Linked DNA regions of Homo sapiens: region 2 is linked to region 1. A link means that fine-mapping ties the variant in region 1 to the expression of a gene that starts in the linked region. Tissue or cell type: whole blood. Region 1 holds a variant in brackets; the other region holds the start of a gene. All regions are shown on one strand. Distances are between the middles of the regions.

Evidence for each region. PIP is the estimated chance that this variant, and not a neighbour inherited with it, causes the effect.
Region 2: it holds the start of DDIAS, and the variant in region 1 is fine-mapped to the expression of DDIAS in whole blood (INTERVAL, PIP above 0.99).

Annotation. Positions count from the first base shown.
Region 1 is chr11:83,151,982-83,160,089 of GRCh38, reverse strand. PCF11 (PCF11 cleavage and polyadenylation factor subunit) reads right to left here and starts at 2,959. Exons shown (of 16, transcript NM_001346413.3): 1 at 2,459-2,959. The coding sequence starts at 2,650. RefSeq lists silencers at 1,794-1,853, 3,304-3,383 and enhancers at 2,654-2,903, 2,200-2,989, 3,054-3,103. The variant A/C (reference allele first, on the strand shown) is at 3,473.
Region 2 is chr11:82,897,087-82,905,194 of GRCh38, reverse strand. DDIAS (DNA damage induced apoptosis suppressor) reads right to left here and starts at 3,459. Exons shown (of 6, transcript NM_145018.4): 1 at 3,373-3,459. It overlaps PRCP (prolylcarboxypeptidase), which reads left to right and starts at 4,765. Exons shown (of 9, transcript NM_005040.4): 1 at 4,765-4,960. The coding sequence starts at 4,793. LOC124902602 reads left to right here and starts at 3,140. Exons shown (of 2, transcript XM_047427953.1): 1 at 3,140-3,147; 2 at 3,514-4,281. The coding sequence starts at 3,140. The coding sequence ends at 4,171. RefSeq lists silencers at 3,830-3,919, 3,970-4,019 and enhancers at 4,230-4,279, 4,560-4,659, 4,810-4,869, 4,990-5,039.

The sequences.
Region 1 (8,108 bases):
TTTCTTTTAAGGTACTGTCTAATAAAAGGGTTCACCCACTGCATGTGGGTCAACTATATTAAGTACGAACATGTCAAATGGTTTACTGCTGTGTCTTTACCTTACCATGTCATGTTTTACACCATTTTAGTCATTATTGTACTTATGAAGATAAACAGGCTCTCTTAAACACCAAAGTCTGTTAAGTAGGCTAATTTTTTATTGTACAAGTGAAGTCCTTTTATGTATTATTTTTCGCTACTGCTCTCTCTTGGGAGGAGTCAAATTAAGTGTGAATCCTTTAAGTTTAGTAACGCAGAGAAGCTAAAGAATAAGGACACAAACATTCACCTCCAAAACACAAAACCAGGCCAGTTTGCTACCAAATAACGGAAATCCCTCCCCTCACCCTCGATCCCAACCCAGATTAAGATAGATCCCCCAAAGTGACTTTTACATCTTTTCCTCAACCTGGCTTTACAAAAATAACCAGGAAACGTGTGCCCCCAAAATTTCAGCTGTCTTTTACCAGCAAAGAGCTCATCTATTTTCATCACTGTGTAGCGATATACAAACACAAGTTTTATGTGGTCACTATATTCAGCATTTAGTTTTCGGTTCTCGAAGGTCTTCCGGATCCATTAAAAACCAGCAAGGTTCTTTGAGTGACAACCTGAGCTGCTAAATATTAGGCGCTGTGGAATATTAAATCCCAAGATACGAGGTAATTAGATTTTAAAAATCAATGTTTTTGCCTTAAAAACACAAGTGCTTTAAGGCATTTAATGTCAAGTTAAGCCTTCAACAAGGCAAAAACTAAGTTTTCATGTCCAAGATGTTTGTGGTATCAATAAAAAGCATGTTGAGTATGACGAATGCTTCCTTTTTAAATCTCACACTTAAAAAAAAAAGCTGTTTTACATACACTTTCACAGGAAAAAGTGAACGAAAACTTGTATCTTAGCTGTCAGACTGAGCATGATAAACTTGTTGAGGTCCTTAAAAGGAAAAAGAAAAAAAACCCTTCCTTTTCGTCCTCTTTAAATTATGAAAGGACCACCTGAAACCGTGTATCTTGTGAAGAGGTTTACCCAAAAGAGTGGATGGAACCTAAAGAAGAATGAACCCAAGTCACTTAAAGACTTTTGTTTAAAACACACAACCACGTAGATAAAAATAAGTCTTGGAAACAGATTCTACACCTTACAAAGGTAAATAAAAAAGACAAATACATATTTTATATGTTTTATTCACAAATTTTATAATACCAGTCACACATTTCAAAACCATTTATTAGAGTCAGACCACTCAAGTTTTACACTAGACAGAAACCGTCTCTAAACAATATATTGGTGGTTGTTGTTAAAGTGGCCTTTAAAAAGGGGTTCACTCTGCTAAAAGGAGGCTCATCCTGATAATTGCAATCACTAACAACTAGAAAAAACTAAACCGTGAGTACAAGCTTGAAAAATAAAATGTAGCACTGGGACGCTATTAAAACTCATTGTAACTAAGTTGAACAGTAACTTTACTTAAATGACATATCGCTCCCATATGAATCCACAGAAGAGGAGGACTACAGGGAAATATAAGGTGGCAGAGGACCACTTCTGTCAAGGGGTAAAGAAAAACACTCCTTCGCTATCAGGGAAGGGAGAAAAAGAGAAAAGGAAGAGGAGGAGGGACTGAACTTTTCAGAGAAACTGCAAGTACTTGTTACCCTCTGGGCCAGTTCTCCACCTACAGGTTGGATAAGATCTCCTCCCCCCACCCAAACCCCACCCTCAACCCCACTTGCCCCTATTTTGGGACAAATTAGACCCTCCAATAGGAGAATAAAAGTTTTATCTAGCCGCCCCCACCCCAAAATGGGGCTGACGGGAGTGAGCAGCTGCCTGGCTGGCAGGGAATGGATTCTCCTCTCTTCCCTTTCGCATCATGTGCTTTTCAGGCGCCATGTTGGGCTCCTAACAGGCGGCTGCTCCACTCGGGGCCAAATCCCTATTCCCACCCACCAACAGCTCGCTCCCAGGTCCCCCTTCACCTCCTTCCAACCCACAGAACACAATTACCAAAAAGGGTGCTTGGGGAAAATGGGAGACCCACTCTCCCACTTCCCAGGGAATTAAAATGGCTTATGTTAACTCTTACTTCCCCAAACCACAAACTGCCTTTAAGTCTCCCCCACCCCAAAGGGCTCTATTCAAAGCGTGTGTGTGTCGGGATATACAATGCGGTGGCCTAAAAAGGGAGTTGGAAAGCGGAAGTGGGACTCCACCCTTTATCCTCCCCACTCCCTCCCCCCCAGAGGCCCATGCTCGAAGCCTGGGCCAAAGACCGAGCCTGAGTTGGAGGGGGGTGGGGGGGTTGGAGAGAAGGAACACTGTCCCCCTTGGGATGGAAGCGAGACCTGGGATGAGGCTGACACTAAAATCAGGGAGTATTAGAAGTAATAGGAGGCTGCGGGGTGTATAAAAACCTTGGCGGTTTGGGCCTCGATGAGAGAGACGATCTCCTTGGCGAAGGGCAGGTTCTCCTCGGCTAGAATGGTCAGCATATTGATGTGCGGCTTGCTATTGAAGGTCAGGTCTTCGAGCGATGACTGATAATCCCGACAGGCGTCCTCCCGGGCCCCCGCAGCACCGGCCTCGGCCGGCGTCTGCTCTGACATTGCGCCGCGGCCCCCCTCCGAGGTCCGCTGCAGCTGAAGCTGAAGCCGCTCTGGATACCCCGCCTCCCTTCCGACTCCTCTTCCTCTCCCCGGCTCTCTCGCGGCTCCGGCTTCACCACATGCTGACCGCGGAGGGGGGATGGGGGACGACACAGGGGGAACCTCGGGTATGAAACGCCGCCGTCTCGCGGGTGATCTCCGTCCACTTCCAGCCGCCACAGAAGCTTCTTTCTCCACAGACACAAAATGGCGGCGGCAGTGGCGGCTCCAGCTCCGAAAATGTCTGTGTTCCCAACCGCTGCGTCGTGCGAAATGAACTAGGGGAGGGGAAATGTGCGGTAAAAGGGCGGGGCCACTGATAAAACCAGGCGTGATTGGCTGTCCCGGCAACGTCACGAGCCCCGCCCCCGGCCCTTCCGCAGGACGCCCTGGCACCGCCTTCTTCTCCGGCCTCTACCCGGACTTTCGCAACATCTACTGCTCGGAGGCGCACTGGAAAAGACGGCCCTTCTCATTGGCCGATTCATAAGGGACTGTTCGGTCATTTGTTACCATAACAACCCATTCAGGGAAGCCAATAGGCCTGGGAAGGCAGTTCCCGCGGCCCAACCCAACCACTTTGAGAAGAAGACTCAGCCGTCCCCTCTTCGTCCCTCCCTCTAGCTTCCCAGCCACTGAGCGGGCCTGTCAATCATCTTTCCTCCCGCCTGCCCCGTAGCTGCTACCGACGGTGGGGGTTGGAGGGAGCGGGGGTTGGAGGGAGCGGAGGCTTTCTGCCGCCGCACCCCCTCTCCCTTAGCGTCTCAGGTGCTCTGGAGAGCC[A/C]GGGCGGGTCCAGCTGCCCCTCTGGGAACTGGGAAGTGGGAGGGAGGTGCCCAATTTACCCGGAACTTCGGAAAGCACTGCTGGAGAGTTTCTTCCAGCACGCCGCTTCCCACACCCACAAAAATACCTAGGCGAGCTTGCCTGACTTGAATCCCCAGGAAAATGCCTTTTATTTAGAGATTAAGTGTGAAAGGCTTTTTCCTTGGGGGTTTGGAGGAGCTCTTTAAGGAGCCCACTATGAGCTCTAGGAAGAGTTTTTCACAACAGCCACACCCAGCTGGACCGTAATATCTCCACTGTGAATCTGCATTTCAGAACCTCCTTAGCATACACTATTTGGGGCACGTAGGAAAACACACACGCGCATGCACTTTTGTTTTAAACTTGTGGGGCTGTCTTCCCAGGTTGGAAATGATGCTCGTAAAACACACAAAGCTTTCAAATAGTTCACCGTGGAGCTGCGACATAACACAAACCAAACGTAATTTTTTCATTGAGTAGCGATATTGACCTAAATATAAGCTTTTAAAATGTGTCAATTACGGGCTGGGCGCGGTGGCTCACGCCTGTAATCCCAGCACTTTGGGAGGCCGAGGCGGGCGGATCACGAGATCAAGAGATCGAGACCACCCTGGCCAACATGGTGAAACCCCGTCTCTACTAAAAATACAAAAATTAGCTGGGCGTGGTGGCGTGCGCCTATAGTAGTCCCAGCTACTCGGGAGGCAGAGGCAGGAGAACCGCTTGAACCCGGGAGGTGGAGGTTGCAGTGAGCCGAGATCACGCCACTGTACTCCAGGCTGGTGACAGCGAGAGTCTGTCTCAAAAAAAAAAAAGTGTCAATTACCTAAAATTGCTTTTCCATTGCCTTCCGTAGGCTACTAGGCATTTGAGAGATAATTTGTTGCTCCCCAGAAGAAATTGCTCTTAAAAAATAAACTTAGCCGGGCATGGTGGCGGCCGCCTGTAATTCCAGCTACTTGGGAGGCTAAGGCAGGATCACTTGAACTCGGGAGGCAGAGGTTGCAGTGAGCCGAGATCGCAACACCGCACTCCAGCCTGGGCGACAGAGTGAAACTCTCTCTCAAAAAACAAACAAACAAACAAACTACTCTTTACTTGTCCCATATAAAGTAACATTTTCATTTCTTCTTTTTGTTTCTTTGAGTTTTTTAGCATCTTTATTGTTGTCTAATTGAAACATAATGAACTGCATAAAGTGTGCTGCAAAGGTTAAGTTTTGACATGTATTTTCCATTTTTTTCTTAGCATGATATCACACATGAATGAAAAGTAAAACCTGGGGAGGAAAACTGGTCTTCCCTCATTTGAAGCTAAGAAGTATTGTTAAATAAGTATTTATAATCTCAATAATTTCACACTATTGTTAGTGGTGCTATTTAGATATACTAGAAAGTTTCAACTAATAACGTCCAAAGGTTTTATTTTCTGGAGGGAAATGACCAGGGTGAAATAGTCCTCTGTTCATTTTCTTTTCATTTTAAAGGTGAATTTCATTATAGAAATGTCTGCCTTTTACAGTTTTTAACTTTCTTTTAACAGCAAAGTGAACTTCTAAAAAAAAAAAAAAAAAGGCTCCAAAGCTCTGATTTGGCTTTTATTGTATCCCTCACAGACTATATACAGAGTAAACAATTAATATATCTTAGCACATAAATCAACAAACTTATGTCCCCACAAATGACATGGAAAACTCAAGAGACTAGCAATCTTATTCAAATCATGTGCTGTACTGTAACAAGCACATTTTTTCTTTAAATACTCAGGACAGGGCACAAACTAGATAACTGGAATTTTAAATACAAATAAGTGCACAAAACTTCTCTCATGGATTTTCACTACCAGTTCTTTCATCAGAATATGCAACGAATTTACTTTCCACCAACATTAAGCCCCGGTTATTTCCTATCTCTATGCTAGGTGCAGTGGTGAACAAGATAGCCCCTTGGCCATACCTTCATGAAATGTATACCTCAATCATAACCTCATGTAGTAATGTGAAAAAGTACTACATTTGTCCAGGAACCAGTGGTATCCCAGGACTATTTTCAATAATCAAATCCACTAATTATTGTGTTTCTGCAGAATATGAAGCATTTCCATTGTTTTTGAGGAAAATAGCTATACCCTTCCCTTGGTTCACAGAGTATTTACAAGAGGAGTTAATTCCTCCTTTAAAAAAATCTCTCAGCCTGGGAGTGGTAATAATTATCAAAAAATAAATTAATTAAATTTTTAATTTAATTTAAATTTTAGAAACCTCTGTTGTATCTAATCAATAACTCTTCTCATGTAAATTTTTTATATCATTAGAAAGACAGAAATGTGGACACTAAACACAAAAGTAGAAAGGACATAGGCCAGGTGCCATGGCTCATGCCTGTAATCCCAGCACTTTGGGAGGCCCAGGAGGGCAGATTGCTTGAGCTCAGGAGTTCAAGACCAGCCTGGCCAACATGGCAAAACCCCGTCTTCTACCATAAATACAAAAAATTAGCTGGGTGTGGTGGTGTATGCCTGTAATCCCAGCTACTCCTTTAAAATTTATAGACTGGGCGCTGTGGCTCACGCTTGTAATCCCAGCACTGTGGGAGGCTGAGGTGGGAGGATCACTTGGGCCCCAGAGGTTGCACTGAGCTGAGATCATGCTACTGCCCTCCAGCCTGGGCGACAGAGCCAGACTGCGTCTCAAAAAAAAAAAAAAGGAAATGAAAATTGAAAGCCAATCCCTTTAAAATCAAATAGTTATCGAGCACTGTCAGCAGGTAGAATTTCCCCCTTTTATATGTAAACCCAGTGTATGTAGATAATATGCAGCAATAATATTTACCTGTTATATATGCATATACATTTATTTATTCTTGCTAGAAATATGTAGTTTACTTATATAAACTTTTTTTATTTTTGGAGACAGGGTCTCACTCTGTCACCCAGGCTGGAGAGTGCAGTGGTGCGACCTCAGGTCACCGCAACCTCTGCCTCCAGAGCTCAAGGGATCCTCCTACCTCAGCCTCCTGAGTAGCTGGGACCACAGGCCTGCACCACTACACCCGGCTAGTTTTTTGTATTTCTGATAGAAGATGGGGTTTCGGCATGTTTTCCAGGCTGGTCTTGAACTCCTGGGCTGAAGCAATCCTCCCACTTTGGCCTCCCAAAGTGTTGGGATTACAGGAGTGAGCCACTGCTCCCTGCAACATTATTATTTACATGTTTTATAACCACAAAAGTAATGCATGCTTATTTTAAAGAATTCAAATACAAGTACACAAAGAAAAAATGAAAATTCCATCTCTCTGCCCTTGGCCATAAGGTAACCACTGCTCACAGTTTAATATCTATCTTTCCATGCCTTTTTCAATGAACGTACACATAAACACAATATGTAAAGCTTTTTTTTTGTTTCTTTAATTTCACCACCTTTCTGACTGGGAAGTGTAAATCTATGTTTTATTTTTACAAAAATATAATACACATGTGCATATATATCTATTTAATATTAATTACTTGCATTTATTTATTTATTTATTTATATTTTATTTATTTATTTTTTTTGAGATGGAGTCTTGCTCTGTCACCCAGGCTGGAGTGCAGTGGCACAATTTCGACTCACTGCAACCTCCGCCTTCTGGGTTCAAGCAATTCTCCTGCCTCAGCCTCCTGAGTAGCAGGGATTACAGGTGCCCACCATCATTCCCAGCTAATTTTTGTATTTTTAATAGGGAATGGGTTTCACCATGTTGGCCATGTTGGTCTCAAAGAACTCCTGACCTCAGGTGATCCATCTGCCTCAGCCTCCCAAAACACTGGGATTACAGGAATGAGCCACAGTGCCCGTCCTAACTTGCATTTTAAACTCAAGGTGTCACATTCATCCTTTCATGTGCATGGACTTCCTTTAAAGAACAGTCGAGATGCTGTATAATTCAAAGCATTTGTTTTTAAAGTCTGTGGCTTAGAAAGATAGCTACGGCAAGAATCAAGCCATTCTAATGTTGGCTCTAAACCAGGCTCTAAAATTGGCATGTAGTAGATATTCAATGAATATTTGTTGACTGATCCAGGCCCTGATTTCAATTTCACCTTGCTTGTCCATTGTTATCCTCCAACAGTATGAATAGACAAATGCAGCATTAGTTGAGAACTTAGGGTGGAGGTTGAACTTGGTATTATGGAGTTTAGAGATAGTGATTATCAGGAAAGGACCCTGGCTCACAATTCAAATGCGTGATAACCAAATTCCAAAAACCAGTTCATCATTTTAAGACTTAGAAAATATATTTTGCCAGCAATCTTTTCACTCATTTGCAGAAAAATATGATTTAGTGAACAATAGTTCTTAATTTTAAGTTTTGCTCCCATATATTTATCTTATCTATTGGCATCTCCTTCCATATATAGATGAAGAAAGCAAAAGAACAAGCAGCAAATGAATACTCACCTCCAAAACATGAATTCATAACTAATTGTACACATAATAATCTGCATTATTATATATTATTATCTGGGGTCTCTCTCTAGAAATAGAGAATAAAAAGTCTAAGCTAATAGAAAACTTCCAAAAATATTATTTCATAAATTTTATTTATAAAATGTGTAGTATCCTCTGGAATATATG
Region 2 (8,108 bases), 250 kb after region 1:
CATACCAGGGATTACCTAGGTCAATGTCCAGGAATGAAGGCTCCAATAGACTTATGCTTATTAAAATATGTGGGGTCCATGTGGACACACTATAGTACATATCTAATTTACCATGGGATATTCTGGAATACTTGCTTTCTCTCCTTTTAGACAAGCCATATGGGGAGCTGAACTGTAATCCAAAGATGTTCTACTAATTTACCACGAAAAATTACCATCACAGGGAAGGGACATATCAGAAGCCCATATTTGTATATTTGGTATAACCTCATATTATACTAAAATTATAAACAGAAAGTTGCTTGAAGAAGAGCTGTTTGGTGAATCAACTATTTAATGGAATCAAGCTAATGCCTGATGCATTTTTCATTCTAGAGATGGTTTTGTCAGTGGTACCAGATATATAAACTCATTGATTACAACCTCTGCATCCCATTTTCATACTAGACAAGTATTTCTCAAACTTTATCATATATCAAAATCACCCAGAAGGCTTGATAAAACAGATTGCTGGGCTCCAACTCCAGAGTTTGATTCAGTAAGTCTGGGATAAGGGCCTGAGAATCTGCATTTTAAGTTCCCAGGTAATGGCCAAATTGCCCACACTTGAAAACCAGTAGCCTAGTCATTGAGACTATCTCATGGTGTGTAACACTTGTGATAAACATGGTTATAGTTAAATCCCCAAGGCCTGACAGCATCTTAGTCTCATTTGGATGATTTTGCAATTCTTTACTCTAATCCATTATTTGGTGATCTTTCAGCTTAACTACCTCATAATCAAGTTCTCAGAAGGCAACTTAATCATTTATGAAAAACCGTGCCCATACATGCACATACCAACACATCTTTTTTTCTTCTTCCGGCTAGACTAGAAGATCTAGAAAAACTGGGTTAGATTAGAAAATCTAAACTAATTCTTATTCTATGTTAGATCCTAGAGAAAAAGTTCAATTAAGTATTTAGTGTAAACTGGCATCTGGGGATGGGGCTGAAGAGAACATAAAAGTATAAGATGTGAATCCTATCTTAAAGTTCATAATCCAGTTTGAGTTCATTTGACTGCTTTACAGTTTGCAAAGTGCTTTTGCAACATTATCTGATCCACTCAGAGAAGTTAATCAGGTCTGGAACTCATGCCTTCTGATGAGTAGCTTACCAGTCTTTCTAGTCCATTACTCTCTTTGCTCAAGCTTCACACTTGAAAGAAACTATGTGTATTTGCTTCAAGACTGTGCCCAAAGGATGAAATTACTCCTTTAAAAAACTAGTTCCACTTCTAATGGCATAAAGAAAAGAAAGTATGACTAATTTTTCTCCCTTTCTTCGTTCCTCTCCAAACCCTTCTTGCCTTGCATGAAAATCTTTGTCACCTTGTAATTCTCCAATTTTCTGTTTCATATTTTACAGGCCAAGAGGCCTCAGCTATGGGAAGGGTGGCTGTTTTGAATTGTTTTCTTAACACTGTCTAATGGTCTCCTCCAATGGCACATACTTGTTTAATTTTTCTAAAGGCAGTCATAATAAGTCCCTAAAAAATAATTTAGTAACATTGACACGAAAATTCTAGAAAAGTAAGAGAGGCAGGCAGGAGAGTGAAAATTAAGTAAGCAAAAAAACAAAGAGACAAAATCTTCAGTGAAAGGAGAAATACTGATGAAAAATGCTTTAAAAACATGAACCAGGAAAATCTTAGTACGATACAGTTTTTCCATTGATATCATTTATGAGACATTTATTACAGGGATGGAGAAGGTCACATCTCAGTAAATGGTACTACTCACTAACCAGTAACTCAAACCAGATACCTAGGAGTCATTTGTCATTCCTCCCTTTCCTTCATATCCCACATCACACTCATCAGAAGGTACTTGAATCTACTTCCATACTTAGAAACCATCATTCACTTTTCCCTCATATATTCTGCCATCATCTTAATCCAAATCACCATTATCTCCTGTTTATGGTGCTGGATTAACCTCCTAACCATGATCCGGTCTCTGCCCATCTTTCCAGACTCATCTCATACAACTGTCCTTTCTAAATATATTCCAGCTATACTGGTCTTTCCTTAGATTCTTGAACATTAACATGTCAAGCTCTTTCCTGCCTCAGGACGTTTGCACAACCTGTTCACTCTGTTTAGAATGTTTTTCTTTCCCTCTTTTGCATGGTTGGATCACGCTCATCTTTTAGGCATCAGTATCAACTCCTTGGAAAGGTCTTCTTAGACCAGTCTAATTCACATAGTTTCCTTGTAAATTCTCCTTAATTCCATCCATAAAAGGTAAGTTCCATTAGAACAGGAATCTACCTTGTTCATCATTGGATCTCAGTACCTAGCAATTCTTGGCACAGACGAAAGAAGCATTTAACTATCTGCAGAATAAACAAATAATTACTTGGTGCTCTGTGATCCAGTCCTGTGGGGTCAGGAAAGGGTTTCTGATTTAAAAGGCTTTGCAAACTGACTAAGAATTAGCCAGGTCAGGGACAGGGTCAGAAGACGGTTTGGGGTGAGAAGGAGGATAGTGCACTTCAGGAACACAAAAGACATTCTATATGGCTGGAGCGGTGGAAAACCACTAGGGCTGAAGAGCCAGGCAAAAGTCAGATAGGAAAGAGTCTGTAAGTCATGTTAAAGAGTTTGGGCTTAAACCTGAGGGCAAATAGGAGCGACTGAAAGGTTTTCAATGGGGAGTGCCTCGGTCAAATATGAACTTTATCAGCCCAGCAATGTGGAGACTGGACTGGAAGGTAGCAAGATTGAAAGCAGGAGAACCAGCTGGGGCGGCGGGGGAGGGGGGGGTTACTGTCACAGCTATGTAGCAGTCATAGGGTCGAACCAAAATAATGTCAGTAAAAAACGGAGAGAAGTGAACAGATCTGAGATATTCAAGAGGCTGGTAGGGACTGGCTGGATGTGAAAAGGAAGAAAACTTTCAAGCTCTGGTTTAAGCACATGGCTCAGTTAAAATATGTTCCTTCTAAGCCATCATAGCATTTTGGAAGATCCCCTTTCAGCACGTACTACTCTGCACAGTGGCCCACTGAATACGTATTTGCACATTACAGAAGCAAGAGTCGCGCCTTTTCCTCTCTATTTCCGATTCTAAAAGCTCACTCCGAGTCTAGCTCGATGGCACTGTAAGTGTTCAATAAACGTTCGTTAGGTGATTGCAAAAGCACTGAGTCTAAAATAAAATAACTGACGTTTATATTCTGTTACCCTCATGGCTGCCCGTTTACAGAGAACCACTTGTGAAAAAACAAGCGCCGGGCTCTGGGTGGGTCTCATTCATAATGAAGTTAAGAGCCTCCTTAGGAGTCTCCGGCTCTTCGGCTTCCCGAGAACCCCTTTACCCAGCTCACCTGGGGGAGAAGACCAGGAACGGGCCCAGGCGACGCACAGTGACTCGGACCGGCCGAACTCAGTAGCACGCCGGCAGCCTTCCAATCGAATCTCCCGCGTCCTTTTCCGCCGGAAGTAACGCTTTGGCTCTGATTACTCAGAGCCAATCAGAAGAAGGCGCCGCAGAGGGTGGAGCTTAGCGAGGAAATCCTACAAGCATCTGGAAACGACCATTTTCGTCAAACTGCGGGTAGAGTCTTTCTCCCCGACAGGTGGATCAGTAGTACAGTCCGTAAAATTGGTTTTGGAGCTTCGCTGAGCCTCCTGGGCGTAGGGTTCCCGGGAAAGTGTGGAGTGAGCCGCAGCGCCCTGGGGTCTGGCGGGGTGACTGAAAGAGGGAATGGAAGCTGGATGAAGAGGGTTGAGGGAGCTTTGGAAGCCAGACCCGGCGCTGTCCTAGGGGCTAGCACTACCCACGGGCGGAGGGAGGAAGGGGGCGGTGGCAGGAGGCAGGAGGGGGGTGGAGCGCGGAGTGGGTTTTCGGGTGCCGGAGAAGAAAGGGGGCGTTATTTGAAAGAAGGGACCGGGACCTGGCGGGATTTAGGGGCGATGTGGACCCGGGGCGACCTGTGTAATGGATGGGTTGTGCGAGCAACACAGTTTTGGGGTGACCCAAGAACGGAGTATCATAGGGAGTGGTTAGGCTCCAGATGGAGGTGGGTGCAAGGAGCACAGTCTTTGGACCTGGACCCAGCGGTCTGCGACGACGTGCTCCGCTCACTGCTGAGTGATCTAGTGCAAGTTCCCGCACCTCTCTGAGCCTCAGTTTCCACATCTGTAGATGGGAATAACAATCATATACGACGCACAAGATTGCTGTGACGATTTAGTTAGAGGAGATGATGCGTGTGCCTCCCTGCCTCGTGATACACTGGCCTGTAGTGAACCTTCAATAAATTGTCATGGTAGCTGTTATTGCCGTTACGTAGGATTTGCGGAAGGCAGGAGGTGTCGCAATGGAATTGCGGTGGCCAGGGCAGGGTTTGGTGGTGATGATAATGGTAGGGATATTGGGTGACCTGAAGGACAGGTGGGCTTCGGGGGCGCTATAGATAAAGCATGGGCTACAGCGATGAGTTAGGAAGAGGCCCTAGCATGATAAGGGCAGACTTGGGGTGTGACCGCAATGAAGGTGAGTGCTAAGGAGCAGATGGCACGAGAGGAAAGTGGAGTGGAGGCGGTGTCCTCGGGGATGGGGGCGGAGTGGCTGTGGTGACCTGGCTTGGGCGGCGTCTCTGAGGAGCTGGCTGGCTTTGGGTTTCCCCTGGGAGGAGCTGTTTTGCGGCGGGCGGAGCTGCAGGCTGGGCAGGGCTTAGCCTGTGCGCTTCTGCTGGCCTCCTTTTCGCCCTCCCACCCGCACTGCAGTCTCCAGCCTGAGCCATGGGCCGCCGAGCCCTCCTGCTCCTGCTTCTGTCTTTTCTGGCGCCCTGGGCCACCATAGCCCTCCGGCCGGCCTTAAGGGCCCTCGGCAGCCTACACTTGCCAACCAACCCCACATCCCTCCCGGCTGTAGCCAAGAACTATTCGGTTCTCTACTTCCAACAGAAGGTAAGGGGGAGCGGGGGCTTCGCCGTCCCAGGCCCAACCGCCGGGAACCCTGACCCTCAGAGCCCGGGCAACGGAGCCTACCTCGAAATTCACACCCCTTGATGCCTAGGATCTGTTCGGTTTTTGGCTAACATCTTCCAGAAGGTGGTCCCAAATCCCAGTTCTGTTTAAATTTTCTCCTCCCATTACCAATAATTTGGTAGTAGTTTTGGCTGCATACTCTTGATTCAGGCTTTTCTGTAATTGGACACGACAGTCACTTCAACTCCCTCTGCTCCCAGAGGGTGCCCCAATCCGAACTCCCTTGACCTTCCCTCAAATTCAAATTATTAAATGCCAGCTCTGGTACCTAGTCTGCGGTGATAGTCATCCTTTGCCCCAAGGCAGCCCTAAATACAAATTTTAATATCTTTACCTATTAGAAAATATTGGATAGTTATCCATCCTAAAAGCCAGCCTCTCAGAAGGGGTCAGCTCAGAGCTGATTTTGTAGCCCTATTATTAAGAATTGTTGACAGTCCCTATTCCCCATAAGACTGAATGTATGTAGCCTATGCTTGTAAAAGGAGTTGTAGGAGTTTGTGGTGGGGGTGGGGATTAGCCTTTCTATGGTCTGTAACGTGAAATTAGAGGTTTTTGGGCTTGATGCCTTTGTGCTTGGCTGCAGCATGAGGCATTCCCCCACAGGTCTTGATGGAAAAGTACATCCTCTGTGAAATGACAAGTAATCCTTACAGTTCAGCATTTCTGAAAGCCTGTGTAAAAATAGGAAAAGATTTGGAAAAGGTTGGGATTAGAAAGAGTGCAAGGGTCTGAAGCTTGGCTTTAGGAGTCAGATAGAACCGGATTCCACCCTGCTAGCTCTGTGACCTTGGGCAGGTTACAGTACTTCTGTGAGCCTAGTTCCTTGATCTCTTGGGGTTTGTGGTGATGGTTGAATGAGAGCAGATAACGTACTCTTAGCAGAGTATCTGGCTTCAAGTAGGCACTCATATAATATGTGGTTATAGACCTATGTGAAATTTTGTTGTTGTTAATTGTGCAGAGACAAGGCTCACTATGTTGCCCAGGCTAGTCTTGAACTTGTGGGCTCAATAATCCTTCTGCATCAGCCTCCCAAAGTGTTGGGATTACAGGTGTGAGCCACTGAGCCCAGCCCTTATGTGAATTTGGAATGGGAATTTGTGGTAGAGGGATGTCATAGACTTCCAGAATAACTTAGAAATAATTTAAAAATTTTTTTATTTTTAAAAATAGAGATGGGATTTTGTCATCTTGCCTAGGCTGGTCTTGAACTCCTGGGCTCAAGCGATGCCCCTGTCTTGGCCTCCCAAAGGGCTGGGATTGCAGGCGTGTGCCACTGTGTCCCCAGCCAAGAAACAATTTTTAACCCAGACATTTGAGTTCAAGTTTATGAGGAAGAGAAAACATTTTAATTTTAGCAGGGGTACTAGGAAATAATCTTTTTTCTCAGGCAACTCCCTTAAATTAATTCTCTAGGGCATAATTCCCTCATTTGTAAATTAGGAGGGTTGGGACAAGGACCAATGTGTTTTACACTTTACTGAGGAAAATTAAGGGCTCTTTGGGGAGCTGTTTCAGAGGGAAAGTGGATGAAGGCTGAAGTGGAGGCCAAATTAGGTGCTCTAGTACCCTCTCTTGGATCTCTTTCAGCTTTTACCTGTTTTATATGCTGGGATTTTATATACAACTATTTGCAGAACTCAACTGCTAAAGTAAAACGGTGGGGAGGACTATTGGATTGGGAGATCTCTAAAATCCCATTGGGATTGATGAAAAAGAGAACTATCAGCAGAAAAGAGGAAGGGAACAAATGAGTTGTTAGTACCTTAGTTCCTAATTTATGTTCCTTTATTGTAGATTCTTTTCTTGGCCACTACACTCCTTAGAAATATAATTCAACACTGTTTCTTTTTCCATTTTTGATGATATGCAAAGTCCAGCTTTACTCAGCCACATTTTGTCCACTGGCTTATATTTAATTTATATTTTAGGATACAGATTCCACGTATGTATTTATTACCATAATAATAATTTTTCTTCTGTCTATTCCAATTGAGTTTTATTTCATTTTCTGAGGAAAACTTTTACATATGTATTTATTGCATAATTATAATTATACTAGTTGCCAATTTCTGAACCATTGATTTTTAGTTAGGACTATGTGTGAACTCAACTTTAAGTTTTTAAGTTAGAGCACATGAAATACTTTGATGCCTTCTAGTAATAAACTTATTATTAAAACTGTAAGGCTTAGTTTTTTATTCAAGGTTTAATTTTTATTAAACTTTATAATGATTTACCTGTGGTTATATCTGCCCCAGTGACCAAGCTGGACCCAGCTGTCCTTCTATGTATATAAAGGATGTGGTTTTATGGAGTGGTCTCTAAGAAGGCTTAGCCCATGGTCTTATCCCTCCCCTGCTTAGAAATTCTTCATAACTCTGATTGCAGGATAAAGGCCAAACACCTTGGCATGGGAATCCATTGTTCCTTACTATGTAACCCTAGCTGGTCGTTCCAACTTTATATTCTGCCATAATTCCCCATCCCAGCTCCCACTTTTAGCAACCTAACAGACTCAAGTGACTTTTACTGTGTCAGAAATTCTGTCTGGAATACCATCCCTCTTCCCCACTATTTAAACTCATAATTCTATTCCAGCAGAAATGTCTCACCTCTTCTGCGAATCTTTGACTTCTTTAAGGAAATTTAGTTGGTCTTTTTTCATCCTGCACATTTACTATATTGTATGTGTCCCTCCAGCTCGTTAGTACTCTACAATACCTAGAAGAGCCTATAAAAAAGTATAAAGCACAAAATAAATAGTTGTTGAAAGAGTGAATGCATGATTATTCAAAAAGAACCTAAACAAAGCAAAGGCTACCATCATTTAATTGTCACAAATCATTTTTTATTTTTCTTTTTATCTTTTACTTTAATTCTTTACTAATTATTTTTTCCTCCTTTTTCAAGGTCTTCAAATATTGAGTTAGGTAGGACTATTTGATTTCTTTTACCTGAAATAACTGAATTAGGAGACCAGAGAGAGGATAGTACATCACTTGGGCACATCGAGGCTCTGGGTACATGTGTAGTATGTGTGGTATCAGTGTCATAAAGGGCT